Linked DNA regions of Homo sapiens. The protein of the gene in region 1 interacts with the protein of each later gene in a pairwise test. Each region holds a gene or a part of one and is shown on either strand. Other genes may lie near its edges.

Evidence for each region.
Region 2: the proteins of FGF12 (region 1) and CT45A1 interact in binary tests that used the Homo sapiens proteins (3 or more experiments, as listed by UniProt).
Region 3: the proteins of FGF12 (region 1) and COIL interact in binary tests that used the Homo sapiens proteins (3 or more experiments, as listed by UniProt).

What each region holds. Positions count from the first base shown.
Region 1 is NC_000003.12:192,143,523-192,150,551, reverse strand, and holds part of FGF12 (fibroblast growth factor 12), read left to right. Parts: intron 1-6,424; coding exon 6,425-6,543; 3' UTR 6,544-7,029. UniProt on the Homo sapiens protein: Involved in nervous system development and function. Involved in the positive regulation of voltage-gated sodium channel activity. Promotes neuronal excitability by elevating the voltage dependence of neuronal sodium channel SCN8A fast inactivation.
Region 2 is NC_000023.11:135,716,633-135,723,661, forward strand, and holds the end of CT45A1 (cancer/testis antigen family 45 member A1), read left to right. Parts: intron 1-2,302; 5' UTR 2,303-2,308; coding exon 2,309-2,477; intron 2,478-4,395; coding exon 4,396-4,644; intron 4,645-5,025; coding exon 5,026-5,119; intron 5,120-6,343; coding exon 6,344-6,401; 3' UTR 6,402-6,596; downstream 6,597-7,029.
Region 3 is NC_000017.11:56,944,028-56,951,056, reverse strand, and holds part of COIL (coilin), read left to right. Parts: intron 1-60; coding exon 61-1,168; intron 1,169-1,289; coding exon 1,290-1,376; intron 1,377-1,622; coding exon 1,623-1,670; intron 1,671-4,545; coding exon 4,546-4,615; intron 4,616-7,029. UniProt on the Homo sapiens protein: Component of nuclear coiled bodies, also known as Cajal bodies or CBs, which are involved in the modification and assembly of nucleoplasmic snRNPs.

The DNA.
Region 1 (7,029 bases):
TGGGAAAACTGGATAGCCATATGTAGGAAGCTGAAACTGGATCCCTTCCTTACACCTTATACAAAAATCAATTCAAGATGGATTAAAGATTTAAACGTTAGACCTAAAACCATAAAAACCCTAGAAGAAAACCTAGGCATTACCATTCAGGACATAGGCATGGGCAAGGACTTCATGTCCAAAACACCAAAAGCAATGGCAACAAAAGCCAAAATTGACAAATGGGATCTAATTAAACTAAAGAGCTTCTGCACAGCAAAAGAAACTACCATCAGAGTGAACAGGCAACCTACAAAATGGGAGAAAATTTTCGCAACCTAGTCATCTGACAAAGGGCTAATATCCAGAATCTACAATGAACTCAAACAAATTTACAAGAAAAAAACAAACAACCCCATCAAAAAGTGGGCGAAGGACATGAACAGACACTTCTCAAAAGAAGACATTTATGCAGCCAAAAAACACATGAAAAAATGCTCATCATCACTGGCCATCAGAGAAATGCAAATCAAAACCACTATGAGATACCATCTCACACCAGTTAGAATGGCAATCATTAAAAAGTCAGGAGACAACAGGTGCTGGAGAGGACGTGGAGAAATAGGAACACTTTTACACTGTTGGTGGGACTGTAAACTAGTTCAACCATTGTGGAAGTCAGTGTGGCGATTCCTCAGGGATCTAGAACTGGAAATACCATTTGACCCAGCCATCCCATTACTGGGTATATACCCAAATGACTATAAATCATGCTGCTATAAAGACACATGCAGACATATGTTTATTGCGGCATTATTCACAATAGCAAAGACTTGGAACCAACCCAAATGTCCAACAATGATAGACTGGATTAAGAAAATGTGGCACATATACACCATGGAATACTATGCAGCCATAAAAAATGATGAGTTCATGTCCTTTGTAGGGACATGGATGAAATTGGAAATCATCATTCTCAGTAAACTATCGCAAGAACAAAAAACCAAACACCGCATATTCTCACTCATAGGTGGGAATTGAACAATGAGATCACATGGACACAGGAAGGGGAATATCACACTCTGGGGACTGTTGTGGGGTGGGGGGAGGGGGGAGGGATAGCATTGGGAGATATACCTAATGCTAGATGACGAGTTAGTGGGTGCAGTGCACCAGCATGGCACATGTATACATATGTATCTAACCTGCACAATGTGCACATGTACCCTAAAACTTAAAGTATAATAATAAAAAAAAGGTTCAAATGCTGCCAGTCATTCCTTACAGAGTTCACTCAGTGAGATTCAGTTTGAATGATTTTTCTTGACTATACTGACTAGTTGTATCCATATCACGTAAACCTAGACATTTTTCTACATAAAGGAATTAATAGATTTTTCTTTATACACTCATGTCGGATGGACGTTAACTCTTCATTTGCTATCATATCACTTAATTAACTAAGTATATTAACTCTTCACTTGCTATCATATTGAGCCTGATATATATGATGTTCACGGTTTAAATTTTCTGGCCTGGAATTCAGCAAGCTCTGACACAAATTAGCCTTATCCTTCTTATTCGTCATCACCTCCCTATTTTACCCAGTCCTGTAGTGTTTATTTTTGCACTTATGTCTCATCTGAATTAGGACTAGCTACATTGTACGTGCTCAGTGGCCACATATGGCTAAATGGATGCTATACTAGGCAGCACAGTCCTAGAATATTTTCATCAGATTTCTCTATCCTTTTCCTCGCCCTGTACCTCCTCAGTTATATCTCAACTCCCTCTTCCTTAATACAGTTCTAAAACTAATGTTTTTTATTATTGGGGAATTGCTGGCTCTTCCTATGCAAATGGAACACCTCTGGCTTTAATAGTCACTTCTTATACCTTATACTCAGGACAATTCAGGACAAGTTGTTTGTTTGTTTGCTTTTTAATTGTGGTAAAATATGATAATACAAAATTTACCATTTTAATCATTTTTAAGTATATGTTTCATTGCCGTTAAGTACATTGACATTGTTGTGCAAACATCACCATCATCCAACTCCAGAACTTTTTCATCTCCCCCAACTGAAACTCTGTACTCATTAAATAAGAAATCCCCATTCTTCCCCAGCCCCTGGCAAGTACAGTTCTATTTTTTGCCTCTGTGAACTTGACTACTCTGGGTATCTCACATAAGTGGAATCAATATTTGGCTCCTTGTAACTGGCTTATTTCACCTAGCAGAATTTCTTCAAGGTTCATTCATGTTGTAGTATGTGTCAGAATTTTGTTTTTTAGGCTGAATAATATTTCATTATATGTATAGGCCACATTATATTTACCCATTCATTTGTCAATGGACATTTTGGTGCTTCCATCTTTTGGCTACAGTGAATAATCCTTCTATGGACATGGATGTACAGATAGATGCTGGGGTCCCTGCTTTCATTTATTTTGAGTGTACACCTACAGTTGGAATTGCTGGATCATATGGTACATCCGTATTTAATTTTTTGAGGAATCACCATTTCATTTTCCACGGTGGCTGAGCCATTTTACATTTAAGTAGAAATGAATAGGGTTTCAATTTCTCCACATACTCACCAACTCTTGTTACTTTCTTTTTTGATTTTGTTTATAACAGCCATATGTTTTCTTTTATTACCATTTCTGAATGACTTTAGGAATATTTAGTGAAGTTAAGGCCAACTTAAATCTTGATTAACATACAGACATAAGAATTCAAACACTGATATGTCAGTCATTTTACATTGTTTGTTGGATAAATTATGGTATTTCTGATTTTATTCAAAACTCTTAACTAGGACCTTGAAACCCTAAATATTCATCCTGGCCCTGCCACTACTCACTCTCTGACTTTATGGAAGTGGCTTAATTTCTTTTATATTTAAAAAAAATGGGGGTGATAATTTCTCACCTACTATATTCACTGGGTTATAATTGTAAAATTTAGTTAATCAATTTAAAATTGCTTTGAATACTCTGAAATGATATTGAGGCTGCTATATACATCATGGTGATTTTCGTTTACGTTTTGCACATATAATGCACTTTAGAGAACACTTACGCCTTGTTTCCTTCCTTAATTTTGTTTCATTATTTACCATGTACATTCAGAATAGCAGTCATTAAGCGTTAATGCAACTATGGATGGTAGTAAGGCAGTTATATTACTGAAGGGAGGTACTTTATTCTTTCTTTGCTTTCTAATTGGATTATGGTCTTTAAATTATATTGTAATTCAGAAATTTGATTGAGACTTATTCCCCTTGATTTGTCAGCTTCTTAGATATATTACTGAATCCTAGGTCCTGTAAATAACAATGAAAATTAATGCTCAAGAAATTACATTTAATCTATTGCTTTGACCAAGGTTTTGCTCTCCGTATTTGTATTTGCATGCAGTTTCTAGAATAACTTTAGTTTGCTTTCTCTGAACATCTTTTTATTTTGGTTAACAGAAGTATAGAAATTCAAATACCTATTTGATTTATTGAGGAGGGGGGCAGTTTTCATCAGTGAACTGGAAAACCTACCTTTTACTTGTCGTTTTCTAACTGGGACATGAACTAGGTTTTCAAAACCGTTAATTTTATTACTCCATTTAGTGCAAAGATTGGGAAATTAGAAAATGAGTTGTATGAGAAAAAGAGCAAATTTTACATCTTGCTGTGGCACTGGTGACTTTTGGTCTTTTTGAAACACTGTATATTTTCAGATGTCAATTTGCAATACCGCTCAATATAAGGATGGCCAGCAGGGTTAAATTACTGGAAAAGTTATCTGCAGCAGTAATTATAACAGTAACATTGTGTGTTGACACAAATGAAGTATTTTATGTGCAAGTGAGAAATAGAAAACAAAACAAAAAAAAAGATAAAAGTCCAAGTGAATGTTTTGGGTAGAATCTGTGGCATAAAAAAACTAAAAAGGAAATTGCAACTCTAAGAAACTCAGCTTAAAAAGTGATAAAAATATACACTTTAGGCCAGGCGCGATGGCTCATGCCTGTAATCCCAGCACTTTGGGAGGTCGAGGCGGGTGGATCACGAGGTTAGGAGATCGAGACCATCCTGGCTAACACGGTGAAACCCCATCTCTGCTAAAAATACAAAAATTAGCCAGGCGTGGTGGCTGGTGCCTATAGTCCCAGCTACTTGGGAGGCTGAGACAGGAGAATGGCATGAACCCGGGAGGCGGAGTTTGCAGTGAGCCTAGATAGCACCAAAGCACTCCAGCCTGGGCTATAGAGCGAGACTCCGTCTCAAAAAAAAAAAAAAAATATACACTTTAATGAAAATTAGAAAATTTATTCCTCAAGTATCCCTGGATGAAGCTTAAGGATTTGCAGGTCAAAATATATTATTTTTGAAAAAGGAGATTTTTGTAAATTCATTGAGATTCTGATTTAGCAATCTGTGGGGTGACCTGCAGATGTGTAAGTTTTCACAGCTGATTAGGTGACAGAGTTGGGAAGAACTATTTTATGGTATCATATGAATAGTGTTCCAGCTAAATCACCTCGTTGCTTCTTGCGTTCCCCTGTGCATTGAGCAGTTTTATGTAAATGGTTGTATTTTGCACAAATAAAAAACTATGCTTTAATTTTGGAGTTTTTAATTTTTTTTATAATAGAAAGAGAGGTAAGCACCATTAGACTTAGGGAACTTCAAGATTCTGGCAAGATATTCCCTAAGGATCTTCTATTTGTTGAAACAAAAAAAGAAGAAGAAAGACAAACTTGAATGACTTACTTGTGTCATTTGAAAATTATATGATCTACTCTCTGAGCTGGTTTCCTCTGTATACTCTGTTACTTCAGCCAAGGGCATTTAGTCCTTTGGGGATGTTGGAAGAGCCATCCGTGCAGTAATTGAAATATTTTTAAATCTCATTAAAATATATGTGGCTAATTTACATAACAGCCTTAACACACATATTTTATTCATATATTTTCTGCTACTCAGAGTGTAGTCTGGGTTTTATCAGCATCAACATCACCTGAGATCTATTTAAAATGGAGACTCTCAAGCTCACTACAATCCTTCTGATTCATAATCTGCATTTTAACAATATTCCTAGGTGATTCCCATGTACGGTAACATTTAAGAAGTTCTGTAATAGAATATGTTGGAAGAAATCTGTCTCCTCATCACTGAACCAGTCTCAGGAGACTCTCACTTGTATTCTAAATTCTGTTTTAGTCTAGTTTTGGATTTAGAATACTTTCAGCCAAAACAATTTATTTCTATATTCTCTGAAGATCTGTTATTCAAAATGCTCACAAAGAAATCAGCTCCTTAATTTTCATAAACATTTTTTGGTACTTGCTCTATGCAAGGCATTTAATCTTCATAAATATGCAATTTTTCATTTATGAAAATGTGTCCAAATTAACAAGGCTAGGAGATGGCTGAGTCAGGGTGTGGATCCGGGTAGCATGGTTCGCAAATCGGTAACCACTCAAAGTTCAAGGGAGGAAGCTATTTGATGTTGGAAGTAACATTCAAATTATCAAATCTTTGTAATGATGGTTTAATAGGTGGAGATACCTGTTTGTTCCTAAGCCGAGGATAAAAGTAACTCCTGATATTTACCTGAGACATATCATATACTCTTATCTAGTCACATTTGTCTATTTCACAAGAGTGTAATGAAGCTGAATTAACGTGTTTTGTAAGAATAACTTGAATAATTTGAAAACATCGTTCTTTCTAAACAATTATCTAGGAATAGCCATGATGGCTCACAGATGACTGAACTTTACAGCCAGACAATACAATAGAGGAGAAAAGAACGGTTTATATAGATATGAACTGAAGTCTCATGCTTGCATAATCACGTTCCCTATTGATGAAAAACTACAAAGTCACGGACTGTGTTTCTTACTTTAGCTAAATGTAGGGCAGTCGGGGAAATTGCTTCATCTTTTTTCCTCTTCTCTGTCCTCCCTTATTTTTTTACATAGGATGCCCTGGAAATGGCAATAAATATTTCAGTTTGATACATTATATTTCCTATGGTAGGGTAAAGATTAGCAACATGTAAATGAATATTTTTTTACCTACCCGAATTAGACTGCAGACTAAGGACCAAAAAGCGAAATATTTCCCATGTCTCCTCTGACTCTGGATGAAAATCCTCTTTTCTAGGTTAGGAAACTGTAAAGATTCAAGCCTTATCTATGAGAGAACAGAAACAACTTACTTAAATGTCTGCAGTTCAAGAAAAGTTTAAAAGGTTGTGACTGAAAGAACTGAAAGAAAATTAAGTGTATTCACTGATTATCAAGTTAAAACTGTTTTTTTATAATGAGAAGAAGAGCTTGTGATGAGAGTGAAGAATATTGTAAAATCAAATTTGAAAAGCTTATTGAAGGAAATTTATGTCCACTGTCATAAGTAATTTTTGTTATTTTGCCTTTCAGTGTGTATGTACAGAGAACCATCGCTACATGAAATTGGAGAAAAACAAGGGCGTTCAAGGAAAAGTTCTGGAACACCAACCATGAATGGAGGCAAAGTTGTGAATCAAGATTCAACATAGCTGAGAACTCTCCCCTTCTTCCCTCTCTCATCCCTTCCCCTTCCCTTCCTTCCCATTTACCCATTTCCTTCCAGTAAATCCACCCAAGGAGAGGAAAATAAAATGACAACGCAAGACCTAGTGGCTAAGATTCTGCACTCAAAATCTTCCTTTGTGTAGGACAAGAAAATTGAACCAAAGCTTGCTTGTTGCAATGTGGTAGAAAATTCACGTGCACAAAGATTAGCACACTTAAAAGCAAAGGAAAAAATAAATCAGAACTCCATAAATATTAAATTAAACTGTATTGTTATTAGTAGAAGGCTAATTGTAATGAAGACATTAATAAAGATGAAATAAACTTATTACTTTAAAGGAAAGGATTTGGAGAATTGAACTCACAAACTGATGTTATATACTCAATAGCTTAAACTCATGATAATGCTGCGATGTGTGGTTTTGCTTGATTTTGTATTTTATTTGGGCATCTGGAATTGACACACCATT
Region 2 (7,029 bases), on another chromosome or scaffold:
AGTGTCTTTGAGGAACAGAACTTTTCCATTTAATTATGTCTAATTAAACAATTCATTCTTTATGGTTAGTGCTTGTTTATCCTCATTAAAAACATCTTTGCCTATACTATAGTTGTGAAGACAGTATCTTAAGTGTTTACTAGATTGTCTATCCATCTTTAATAAAGTTTTGTGGAGTGGGAAGAAGTAAGAGTCAAGGTTTGTATTTTCCCTGCATTTATCAAGTGCATTTATTAAAAGCACTGTCTTTTCCACAATGATTTACAACTCTTCTGTATTTTGTATTTCCAGATTGTTTCTGGCCTCTGTGTCCTCTTCCCTTGGTGTATTTGCCTGTCATTGCTCCAGTACCACACTGTTTTAATTACTCTACCTTTATAGTAAATTTCATATATAGTAGTGCGTATCTACTAACTTAGTTCTTTTTCTTTAAAAAAAACTTTGTATTTTCCTTGGCTTAAAAAAAACTTGGCTTTTCCAAATCTTTAATTTGCATATACTTAAAAAATGATCTGCTTGTGAATTTTCAGAAAAACTTTTGTTAACATGGTGGAATTTTAAATATGATTGCTAGGATCATTCTGAGAGACTTGACAATAATGTCTTTTAATAATGTCTTTTAATAATGTCTTCCAGCCAGGCATGGTGGCTCACGCCTGTAATCCCAGCACTGTGGGAGGCCGAGGTGGGCAGATCACTTGCAGCCAGGAGTTTGAGACCAGTGTGGCTAACATAGTGAAACCCCGTCTCTACTAAAAATACAAAAATTAGCCAGGCGTTGTGGCAGGCGCCTGTAATCTCAGCTACTCGGGAGGCTGAGGCAGGAGAATTGCTTGAACTCAGGAGGTGGAGGTTGCAGTGAGCAGAGACTGTGCCACTCTACTCCAGCCTGGGCGACAGAGGGAGGCTCCGACTCAAAAAAAAAAATGATGTCTTCCATTGCATGGAAAGAATATTTTTCTCCATTTACTGCAGTCTTGAATTTCTCTGAGTGATGTTTTATAATTTTTGTGTAGTGCTGTACCACATCTTGATTAAATTTATTCCTAAATATTTGATGTTTTTGGTACTGTTTTTAATGACATTTGAAATCTCATATTCTAATTATTTGTTGCTATTAATTATACAGAAATGCCATTGGTTTTCATTATATCTAGTAAGTTGACTAAATTTGCTTATTAACTGTAATGATTTTATTCTTCTGCATTTTTCTATGTACAGAACAATGTCATCTGTGAATGACAGTTTTATTTCTTTCCAAATTTTAAACCTATTGTATTTTCCTGATGCTACAGCACTTTTTAGAACCTCCAATAGATTGTTGAATGGATAGTGGACATCTTTGTCTTGTTTTCAAACTCAGGGAGAAAATACTGATACGTCACTATGAAGTATGGCATTTAAAAATTTTTTGTACATATGCTAACCAGAATAGGAAACTTGCCCTTTTTCCTAAGTTGGTGATAGTTTTTATCACGAATGGACTTTAAACATTGACCATGTATGAAAATGATCATGTGGTGTTTCCCTGTTTGTTGCTGTTGTTGTTGTTGTTAATGTGGTGCATTACATTTATCGATTATCAAATGTTAAATCAATGTTGCCTTTCTGCAATATACTCCACCATGATGTATGTCCTTTTTAAGTACTATTGCATTTTATTTGCTCACCCTTAGTTTGGAATTTTTGTGTCTAAGTTCAGGGGTGATATTGGCTTGTATTTTTGGCTTGATCTTGTAGTTTTTCATTCTTCTAAATTCCTTGTCAGATGTTGTTATCAGTTTTGTATCAATCTTCTAATAAGAGTTCCTAATAAGGGTTAATACAGATTGGTTTATACATCTATTTGAATATATAAGTATAAATACTTATATATTAAATACATATTTTGCATAATATAATGTATAATATATAGTTTAAAATATAATGTTTAACAAGGGTTAATACAGATTGGTTTATACAGCTATTTTTCCTAATAAGGGTTAATACAGATTGGCTTATACATCTTCAAATAGGTAATAATATTTTTATCTATTTTTGGTTGATGACAGCTGCTTATTCCACAAGCATTCTGATTGATTTGGTTATACCATCTTTCTTCTGTTTTACTTTGTGTACATTAAAATTAGGTTTCTTTTCCTGAGAACAGAGTGTTTGTTGAGACTTGGTAAATCTTGGCTCATGATTAAAAGTGAAATTAATGATTCAAAGTCTTGGTTGTATACACATATGCAGATTGCTTGCCATTTTGTGATTGTTAGATTTTTGTCATGAATAGAATATATTCATTGATGTTTTTCAGGAAACAATGACCGATAAAACAGAGAAGGTGGCTGTAGATCCTGAAACTGTGTTTAAACGTCCCAGGGAATGTGACAGTCCTTCGTATCAGAAAAGGCAGAGGATGGCCCTGTTGGCAAGGAAACAAGGAGCAGGAGACAGCCTTATTGCAGGCTCTGCCATGTCCAAAGCAAAGAGTAAGTAAGCCTGTCCTCACGTCCTCCTCATGCTCCTGCCTCATCCCCTCCAGAGAAACTGTCCTTGTCAAGGTTAACAGTTTCGGCTGACATTGCCATTAACTTCTCAGCAGCATTTGACAGTTGTTCACTCGCTTCTTCATGAAAACCTTCTAGGATTTCCATTTCCGACAATCTTTTTTTTTTTTAATTTCTTGTCCGTATTGGTGAATCCCTATCATTTTTTTCTTGAGATGGACTTTCGCTCTTCTCAGCCAGGCTGGAGTGCAGTGGCGCGATCTCGGCTCACTGAAATCTCCGTCTCCTGGGTTCAAGTGATTCTTCTGCCGCAGCCTCCCGAGTAGCGGGATTACAAGCACCAGCCACCACACCCAGCTAATTTTTGTAAGTTTAGTAGAGATGGGGTTTCGCCATGTCGGCCAGGCTGGTCTGGAACTCCCCCCCTCAGGTGATCCACCCACCTCAGCCTCCCAAAGTGCTGGGATTACACGCACGAGCCACCGCCCCCGACCCCATCATTGTTTTTTTCTACATTTCTTTTTCTTCTCTTCTCTAAATACTGCAAAAAATTCCTGAACCCCAGCATCTCTCTCTCTCCTTCTATTCCACTCTGCCACGATCAATCACTGAGCTCCTGAGATACCTCCATGTTTCCCATTATTTCCCGCATCAAACACATACCCTCCAACCCTGCAGCCGGGTCATGATGTTGGCATGTAAATCACGTGATGCCATGTCGCTCCTGAACACCCATCCTCAACACTCCTAAGCACTCAGAACCGACTGCGAAGCAGCTTTGGTCTGTGAGGTTCTGCGTGGCCTGGCCTCCGTCACCCTCTCCTCACACGGGCCCCATCATCTCCTGACTCTCTCTGCTACTGTCCTTCACCCCGTAGTGCCCGGTCCATCCCCACTCCAGCCCATATCCTTGGCCTCACCGCAACCTGGAACTCCCCCTCTGCCTCTGCGCAGGCAGCTCTGCTTTCTCCTTCAAGCCCTGCCCAAGGGTACCTCCACAGAAGGCTCTGCCCAACCAGCAGCAGCTCCTGGGGCTCCCTCTGCTGCTGTTGCCCACAGGCCTGTGGACTGCTTCCTTACCACTAGCCCAACACTGTATGTTTCATTTGCTCATTGTGCACGTACTGTCTGACCGCCCCATGAGGATGTGAGCTCCAGAAGGGCAGGGAACGTTGCTCTCTGGGCTGTTTACTGCTGATCCCCAGCTACCGGCACGCTGCCTGCCACAGACGATGAATAAATGAGAGGTGTCAGACCTGGAGTGAAAAGAAAGTCACTTTTGTGAGACAGAAAGGAAGGATGAGGAAAATCATACACTAAAAGGGATTTTTTGTTGATGGAGTACATGTAGAACTTTCAGCAGTAATGGCCACCTCTATTTTCTCAGAATATGTTTGATGTAGAGAGGAGGCTGGTTGAGGTGTGTCCAAGTTGTCTGGCTTCCAGCTTAGTAAAACATGGCAGTTTGTAAGTGAATTTGAGAAATCATGATATCAAGTGAGACTTGCTGCTTTCAACTTGTAAAGCATAACAAGCTGAAACTGTCCCATGAGTACCAGGGATCTGTGAATGTTGCTTTAGAGTTGTACTGCCTTACTTGGTTTCCATGTCTATTCATAGGGCCAGAAAATAAGAGGTGGTTTTATTGTATTATGTGTCCTGGCCTCCGTTTGTCAGGCCTGGGATTTCTCCCTGGTGTATCCTCCCATTTATGAAATAAATAATTCCCTAGAAACTGAGGAGCACATAGATGTACCCAGAGGGGTGATGAAACACACATATCTCACAGCTCAGCTTCTCAGTTTGATTTCCAGAGCTGTCATTCATGAGGTCTATGTGGAGGGGAAAGAAAGTGGTCAAACACCAACTGATGGCTTTTACTCAAAATCTGTTTCACCAGAGCTTATGACAGGACATGCTATTCCACCCAGCCAATTGGATTCTCAGATTGATGACTTCACTGGTTTCAGCAAAGATAGGATGATGCAGAAACCTGGTAGCAATGCACCTGTGGGAGGAAACGTTACCAGCAGTTTCTCTGGAGATGACCTAGAATGCAGAGAAACAGCCTCCTCTCCCAAAAGCCAACGAGAAATTAATGCTGATATAAAACGTAAATTAGTGAAGGAACTCCGATGCGTTGGACAAAGTAAGTAATATAAGAATGTCTGTTTTATAAAACTATAGGAAGTCTCTCTTTCTATGATTCAGAAGATATTCATGTTGCCTGTTGAGTTTCATTCTTTGCCAGAGTTGAGATTGCACATAATTTATGGTGGTTCCTCTTTTCTTTGACTAAAGCATGTACATTTTTTCTTTTTCTTTTCTTACTTGGTTATGGTTAAAGGAGTTACATTCGTATGTATGTGCAGGTGTCTTTTTTATTATTTAGGTTTTGTATGTGCAGGTATCTTGATTTAAGCATTTAAAACATTTCAGCCTCTGAAGCATGATTGCTGAGGTGTAGATTCACTTCTATTCTTCTTTATATTTGATAATACTGAAGTTTTTTTTTTTTCAACATCTTCAGAATATGAAAAAATCTTCGAAATGCTTGAAGGAGTGCAAGGACCTACTGCAGTCAGGAAGCGATTTTTTGAATCCATCATCAAGGAAGCAGCAAGGTGGGTAGAAATAGGAACTGTCCAATTTCTTTAAGCACTTGGGCTCAATAGAGCACTGGGGGTGAGCGTTGGGGAACAGCCCCTGCCTTGCGTTTCTCAAACCCTGGTCCTCACTCACAGTTACGGCTGTCTCCACAGTTACTTAGGCTAATGTTATCTGAGTGTAACTCATTCTTCGAAGACTATGGAGACTTCCATTTTCACCATAGTCTGAGGTGCGCATTGTCCCTCAATTGACACTCTTTGTATTTGCTAGACTACCTCTTTTTAAAAAATTTGTGTAGGCACATAGCAGATGCATATATTTCTGGGCTATATGAGATATTGTGATACAGACAACAATGTGTAATAATCACATCAAGGTAAGTGGGGTTTCTATCACCTCAAGCTTTTATCCTTTGCGTTACAGAGAATACAATTATACTCTTCATTATTTTTAAATGTGCAATTAAATTATTACCGACTATAGTCACCCTGTTTGGCTATGAAATACGACATCTTATTTATTCCATACTTCTACGTATTAATCATCCCCACTTCCCACACCCTCCACCCCCACTAACCTTTGTAGCCTCTGGTAACTGTCATTCTACTCTCTATCTCCATTAGTTCAGTTGTTTTACACTTTTACTCCCAAAAATAAGTGAGAACATGTGAAGTTTGTCTTTCTGTGCCTGGCTTATTTCACTTAACATAAGGACCTTCGGTTCTATCCGTGTTGTTGCAAATGACTGAATCTCATTCTTTTTTTTATGGCTAAACAGTACTCTGTGGTGTATATGTACCATATTTTCTTTACCCATTCATGTGTTAGTGGACACTTAGGTTGCTTCCAAATCTTGGCTACTGTGGATGGTGCTGCAACAAACATGGGAGTGCAGATATCTGTTCGGTACACTGACTTCCTTTCTCTTGGGTATATACCCAGCAGTGGGATTGCTGGATCATATGATAGCTCCATTTTTAGTTGTTTGAGGAACCTCCAAACTGTTCTTCATAGTTAGTTGTTGTAGTAATTTATATTCTCACCAACAGTGTATGAAGGTTCCCTTTTCTCCACACCCTTGCCAGCATTTGTTATGCCGGCTAGACTGCCTCTTACCATGCAGATACATTTCTATTTCCATGCTGACTGTTACTTCATCTTTCTATCTGTCACAGCGCTTCCTACAGCATAGGTTCTTTGGCTATCTTTTGGTTAATGACATGTCTCTTTCTTTTCAGATGTATGAGACGAGACTTTGTTAAGCACCTTAAGAAGAAACTGAAACGTATGATTTGAGAATACTTGTCCCTGGAGGATTATCACACCCCAAATGCATAATCTCGTTAATGATTGAGGAGAGAAAAGGATCAGATTGCTGTTTTCTACAATGGAGCAGGATATTGCTGAAGTCTCCTGGCATATGTTACCGAATCAAATAGCCTTCCAGAGGCTAAGAAATTTCTGTTAGTAAAAGATGTTCTTTTTCCCAAAGCATTTTATTTGAAAGGATAACTTGTGTTTTGGTTATTTTGTATTCCCACCTGTGCTGGTAGATATTATTAACCCATTAGGTAAATACTATTACAGTCGTGGTTTCTGCAGCAGCTCACAGTGTTGTAGCTGGTATTTATCACTACGTTCTTTCGCTACCCATTTCACATTCCCTTTGCCCTGAGATAGCATGTCAGTTGGTCATGATGCTTGGCCTGGCAGGATGACTCAAACCTTCATTACGGAAGAGTCTGAACCATTAGATGTCCTGCCTGGATGGGGTTGCTGTGATCTTCCATTAACTCTAATCGAAAAACACGGGAGGACTAAGAAGCTCTCTAGACATATCACACATACTCTTCCTTAGCCCCTGGTGTAGTGGGAACCCGATCTCAATGTTGAAATCTGTATCATCAGCCTTCAACGAAAAGGC
Region 3 (7,029 bases), on another chromosome or scaffold:
TGTCCTGGAGATGTGTTTATAAATTGCTCACTCTAGCTTTCTCTCTTGTTCTTTTGACAGAGTTAAATTAGAAGAGAGAGGAGTTGCTGAGAATTCTGTAGTCATCAGTAATGGTGACATTAATTTATCTCTTAGAAAAGCAAAGAAGCGGGCATTTCAGTTAGAGGAGGGTGAAGAAACTGAACCAGATTGCAAATATTCAAAGAAGCATTGGAAGAGTCGAGAGAACAATAACAATAATGAGAAGGTCTTGGATCTGGAACCAAAAGCTGTCACAGATCAGACTGTCAGCAAAAAAAACAAGAGAAAAAATAAAGCAACCTGTGGCACAGTGGGTGATGATAACGAAGAGGCCAAAAGAAAATCACCAAAGAAAAAGGAGAAATGTGAATATAAAAAAAAGGCTAAGAATCCCAAGTCTCCGAAAGTACAGGCAGTGAAAGACTGGGCCAATCAGAGATGTAGTTCTCCAAAAGGTTCTGCTAGAAACAGCCTTGTTAAAGCCAAAAGGAAAGGTAGTGTAAGCGTTTGCTCAAAAGAGAGTCCCAGTTCCTCCTCGGAGTCTGAATCTTGTGATGAATCTATCAGTGATGGTCCCAGCAAAGTCACTTTGGAGGCCAGAAATTCCTCAGAGAAATTACCAACTGAGTTATCAAAGGAAGAACCCTCTACCAAAAATACAACTGCAGACAAACTGGCTATAAAACTTGGCTTTAGCCTTACCCCCAGCAAGGGCAAGACCTCTGGAACAACATCTTCCAGTTCAGACTCTAGTGCAGAGTCAGACGACCAATGCTTGATGTCATCGAGCACCCCGGAGTGTGCTGCGGGTTTCTTAAAGACAGTAGGCCTTTTTGCAGGAAGAGGTCGTCCAGGCCCAGGGCTGTCATCACAGACTGCAGGTGCTGCTGGATGGAGGCGTTCTGGCTCAAATGGTGGTGGACAGGCTCCTGGTGCTTCTCCCAGTGTGTCTCTCCCTGCTAGTTTAGGAAGAGGATGGGGTAGAGAAGAGAACCTTTTTTCTTGGAAGGGAGCTAAGGGACGGGGCATGCGGGGGAGAGGTCGAGGACGAGGGCATCCTGTTTCCTGTGTTGTAAATAGAAGCACTGACAACCAGAGGCAACAGCAATTAAATGACGTGGTAAAAAATTCATCTACTATTATCCAGGTAAGTATTATTTTTTGTAAGTTATCTCCTCCCTTTCCCCTTAGAATGTGTGTGGAGTTCATGTCATGGATTCACATTTTCTCACCAGTGATGATGTCACATGACTAACACTGTTTTTCAGAATCCAGTAGAGACACCCAAGAAGGACTATAGTCTGTTACCACTGTTAGCAGCTGCCCCTCAAGTTGGAGAAAAGATTGCATTTAAGGTATATTTCAAAAGAACAGTCACAGCAAAAAAGGTTCATTCCCCTTCCAAATAAACTTACTTAGAAAATCAGGTTAAATGTGTTTGTAAAAGCCCTTCCCACTGGAACCCCAGTGTTGTTACGGGTTCCTGGTAGGGCTCCCAGACTGGTCGGGGTGGACACGCCAACATGGCATGATGGAGGAGCTGTGGGAATGGGAGAGGATAAGAGGGCTTATGTATTTGTGGGTTTTTTCTTCTTTTTTAGCTTTTGGAGCTAACATCCAGTTACTCTCCTGATGTCTCTGACTACAAGGTAAGGATGTTTATTTAAAAGTAAGTTGTCAGTGTATTATTAAAACTAAAGTCATATTTAATACTACTTGTATGGATAATACAGATTTGTTTTTTTACTAAATAAAAATGCCAGAAAGTAGAAAATGAAAACATTAATCGAAATGTCAACTCTTTAATAGTATCACTGGGAAGTCTCCCTGTGTTATTTGCCTTATACTTGGGAAGAATAGAGTAGGAGAATGATGAGCTTAATTTTTACTTTTTTAAAAAAAATATATTAATTTTTTGTTTTTAAATAGCGACAGGATCTTGCTATGTTGCCCAGGTTGGTCTCAAACTCCTTGGCTCAAGCAATCCCCCCATCTTGGCTTCCCAAAGTGTTGGGATTACAGGTGTGAGCCACTATGCCCAGCCAGTTTAATTTTTTTAGTTACTTTTTTCTAATTAGTTTAGACCAACTTATTTGGGTATTCATTCCTTCATGATTCTAAACTTTGAAAGAAAATAATAAATAGTTCTCAGCAAGAAGATTTGATTATTTTCATCATGGGAATCTATTTTACATATTTGTGAATTACTTCTGGTTGTTATGATCTAGTATGATTTCTTCTGCATTATCAGGTAACCACAGGTAATTCATAAATATTATCCGTGGAATTTACTTACTTAATATCTGTATGAGTCTTTATATTGGCATGTGAGGTTTTTCATAGTTCAGTAAAAGCTTGACTCAGTCAGAGGGATCACAGAATTACATGTTTCTTTTTCACCCACCAACATTTTGTTGAAAATCTTGTTAAAGTGCATTCTTTCTTTTTTTTGATGTACTATATGGAATGTAAGACCATTTTTTAAGGTAATAATTGGTAGTGTTAATATAGTAACATAGATAAAATACAAGGGAATTTGATTTAATCTGGATTGATGCCTTGGAAGACTTAAAATCTTTATAGAAACCTTTCCTCAAGGCTGGGCTTGGTGGCTCCCACCTGTAATCCCAGCACTTTGGGAGGCCAAGGTGGGTGGATCACGAGATCAGGAGATTGAGACCATCCTGGCTAACACAGTGAAACCCCGTCTCTAGTAAAAATACAAAAAAAAAAATTAGCGGGGCATGGTGGCGGGTGCCTGTAGTCCCAGCTACTCAGGAGGCTGAGGCAGGAGAATGGCGTGAACCCGGGAGGCAGAGCTTGCAGTTAGCTGAGATCACACCACTGCACTCCAGCCTGGGTAACAGAGCGAGACTCCATCTCAAAAAAAAAAAAAAAAAAAATCTTTCCTCAAAAGCAGGCTGGAAGAATCAGTTAATGAAGGGATCTGGTGGGTTAGTTCTAGGTCGTTGGTGTTTTGTTTTTTATCTTCTTAGGCACTTACTATCTCCTATGGATGAGGTGATCATGTAATTTATCACCTGAATCAGGATACTTGTGAGTCAAAGGGATGCTATTAATAGTTATGCTGGAAAGATGTACAGACCTGTCTTGAACAAACCAGGGTGTTTTGTCACCCTACCATAGAAAACATTTAATTGTGTGATATATGAGGAAATGGAAATGAATATTGTATTGATACATCCCACAACCTCTATAAATTGTAATTCTAGATGATACTGATTTTTAAAAATTGCTTATTAATGGCCAGGCACAGTGGCTCATGCCTGTAATCCCAGCACTTTGGGAGGCCAAGGTAGGTGAATCACTTGAGGTCAGGAGTTCGAGACCAGCCTGGCCAACATGGCAAAACCCCATCTCTACTAAAAATATAAAAATGAGCCTGGCATGGTGGCGTGCACCTGTAGCCCCAGCTACTCAGGAGACTGAGGCACAAGAATCACTTGAACGCAGTAGGTGGGGGTTGCAGTGAGCTGAGATCATGCCACTGCACTCCAGCCTGGGTGACAAAACGAGACTCTTAAAAAAAATTGCATATTAAATTGGTATTAGTTGTCATAGTTATTAATGTTGGAAGGTGTTTTGCCTACTTTAGTTGGCAAAATTTTTTGAAGATTTTTGAAATTGCTTTCAAAAACATTTTAAGAATGAAAATTGGTCCTACTTTTTTGCTTTGACCTCAAACGCAGTTATCCAGCTTGATCATCTGCTTTATTCATTAACCTTGTCTCCAAAAATTAAATTGGTTCAATTCTGTACTAAAAAATGTAGTCTCCCAAGCCCCTGATTCCCTGTTGAGTCTGGTTTTAAAAAAAACTGTTGACTGTGCTCAGAAATTCCAGGTAGAGGCAGGAGGAACTGGTTGCTTGGCCTCTCAGTATATACCCCCGGAGGCTACCATGTGTCTCCCCATCGCCCACGTGCATGGGCAGTGCATCCTCTTGATGCATTAGAAAATCAGCTCCCACAGCTGGAGACCTGGGAGAAGGAGAATTGGGATCTTAACAGTGATAAAGTGCCTTCTGGTTTCTCCTGGGGGGTTGTGATCACTGTTTTAGAAGGGTTCTAAAAGCATCAGGAACCGAGGCTGCACCATTAGGATATATCTAGTCTCTCCTGATGAATGCTGTGATGGTCAGTGCTCACTTGAATATATCAGCCTGGTGTGATTTTTTTCTCCTTTTCCCTTATTCAGTCACTTTTGGTTCCCTGGTGTAATCTTTACTTTCATCGAGTTATTTAAGATAGTGTCTGCCATTTATGATTTAAATGTTTTATTTTGCCTCTAAAGATATTTCTGTATATTCACATAAAGTGTTTATCAGTCCACCTGTTTTTATTTTCTCTATATGTGGATTTATTTCTAAATTTTTCAACTGAGATAAAATTCACATAACATAAAATTCAACATTTTAACCATTTTAAAGTCTACAATTCAGTGGTTTTTAGTATATTCACAGTGTTTTACATGTTGATTTTGACTTGGACTTTTATTTTTGAAAGGAAGGAAGAATATTAAGCCACAATCCAGAGACCCAGCAAGTAGATATAGAAATTCTTTCATCCTTACCTGGTGAGTCTTTTAGAAAATAATTTGAAAATGTAGGCTCTATCTACAGTGGTTTATAAATAGCTTTTATACACAGGAGATGTTCTCTTCCTTGGCCTCCATATAACTGGCGCTCCCCACTTCTTTCAGCACACTTTAGCCCTGGGGGCTCATAAGAGATGTTGGATATATTCCAAAGCTGTTGGGCTAGTTCTTATTACTGTAATTATATAATTTCATAAAAGATTATATGAACTGATGAAAATCGATTATAAAAAGAATTATTCCTAGGAAGCCTAAGTTGAATGCTGACTCAGGAAATGCTATGAAATTATGGATGAGTGGGTCAGCTATAAAAGATTGGGAGGAATTTTGTAAAAACTGAGGAAGATTCTGCACTTAGATTGCCTTGCAAATTTTTGCAATCTTGCCTTATTTAAGAAAAACCCAGGCTGGGCACGGTGGCTCACACCTGTAATCCCTGCACTTTGGGAGGCCAAGGTTGGTGGATCACTTGAGGTCAGGAGTTTGAGACCATCCTGGCCAACATGGTGAAACCCTGTCTCTACTAAAAATACAAAAATTAGCCGGGCGTCATGGCACACGCCTGTAATCCCACCTACTGGAAAGGTTGAGGCAGGAGAATCGCTTGAACCCGGGAGGTGGAGGTTGCAGTGAGCCGAGATAGTGCAACTGCCTTCCAGACTGAGTGACAGAGCAAGACTTAGTCTCAAAAAATATTTTAAAAACCCCCAAACTGTAAATTGTGGAAATTGCAGACAATACAATGGTATGGTTTATTAAAAAAAGAGCTCTATTCAGTGAACTCATAAGACCTACTCAGCTCTATTTCAAAAGATTGTCAAATGAATATACTTTTGTATATTAAGTCAAAACAAAATGTCTGAAGTGTGTGTATACATACACTTTCACATATCATTTTAAATGGTTGCTGGATTTATCTCTGATGAACCCCACCTGGTACTGGAACTGAATGCGTGGAATAAGAGGGCTTTTATAATATGTAGCTTAACTTGGGGTGTACTGTAGGGGTCCCTGGCCAGAGGGCAGGGGAGATTCCTTTTCCTTTAGAAGATCCTAAAGCAATTAATTGTTTTCCTTTTTTTTTTGACAGAGTCTCACTCTATCGCCCAGGCTGGAGTGTGGTGGCACAATCTTGGCTCACTGCAGCCTCCGCCTCCCAGGTTCAAGTGATTCTCATGCCTCAGCTTGCAGAGTAGTTGGGACTACAGGCACACACCACCATGTCCAGCTAATTTTTGTATTTTTAGTAGAGATGGATTTTGACATGTTGGCCAGGTTGGTCTTGAATTCTTGGCCTCAAGCAATCCACCTGCCTTGGCCTCCCAAAGTGCTGAGACTACAGGTGTGAGCCACTGTGCCCAGCCTGTTTTCTGTTTGTTTGTTTGTTTGTTTGTTTGTTTATTTTTGAGACGGAGTGTTGCTGTCGCCCAGGCTGGAGTGCAGTGGCGCTATCTTGGCTCACTGCAAGCTCTGCCTCCCAGGTTCGCACCATCCTCCTGCCTCAGCCTCCCGAGTAGCTGGAACTACAGGCGCTGGCCGCCATGCCCGGCTAATTTTTTGTATTTTTAGTAGAGACGGGGTTTTACCATGTTAGCCAGGATGGTCTCGATCTCCTGACCTCGTGATCCACCCACCTTGGCCTCCCAAAGTGTTGAGGTTACAGGCATGAACCACCGCACCTGGCCTTCTGTTTATTTTTAGATAAGGGATTGAATAAAAGATTCAGCTAACAGAAATCAGTCGAAAGAGTTTTTGAACAAAGTTCGTTTATGATATTAAGTAAATGTTTATATATAACTTACACTGGGTTCCTACCTTTCTTTTTTTTTTGAGATGGAGTCTCACTCTGTTGTCCAGGCTGGAGTGCAGTGGGCGATCTCGGCTCAGTGCAAGCTCCGCCTCCCGGGTTCACGCCATTCTCCTGCCTCAGCCTCCCGAGCAGCTGGGACTACAGGCACCCGCCACCACACCTGGCTAATTTTTTGTATTTTTAGTAGAGATGGGGTTTCACTGTGTTAGCCAGGACGGTCTCGATCTCCTGACCTCGTGATCCTCCCACCTCAGCCTCCCAAAGTGCTGGGATTACAGGCATGAGCCACCGTGCCTGGCCAGGTTTCCAACCTTTCTTCTGATGAGATTTCATTTATAGAAATCCCCTTTCTTAGGAACGGTGGACAGAAAAGTTTGTCCACTGTCAAATTCTGTGCATACAGCCTGATCAGTGCTTGTCAGGTGATTAATAGTGATGACATCCACTTAGAACTTTTCTTCTTTAGGGCATCAAGAAATGGCTTCGGGGGCGAAGGTGGGAGGATCACTTGAGCCCAGGAGTTCAAGACCAGCCTGGGCAGCATAGTGAGACTCTGTCGTAAAAAAAAAAAACAAAACATAGC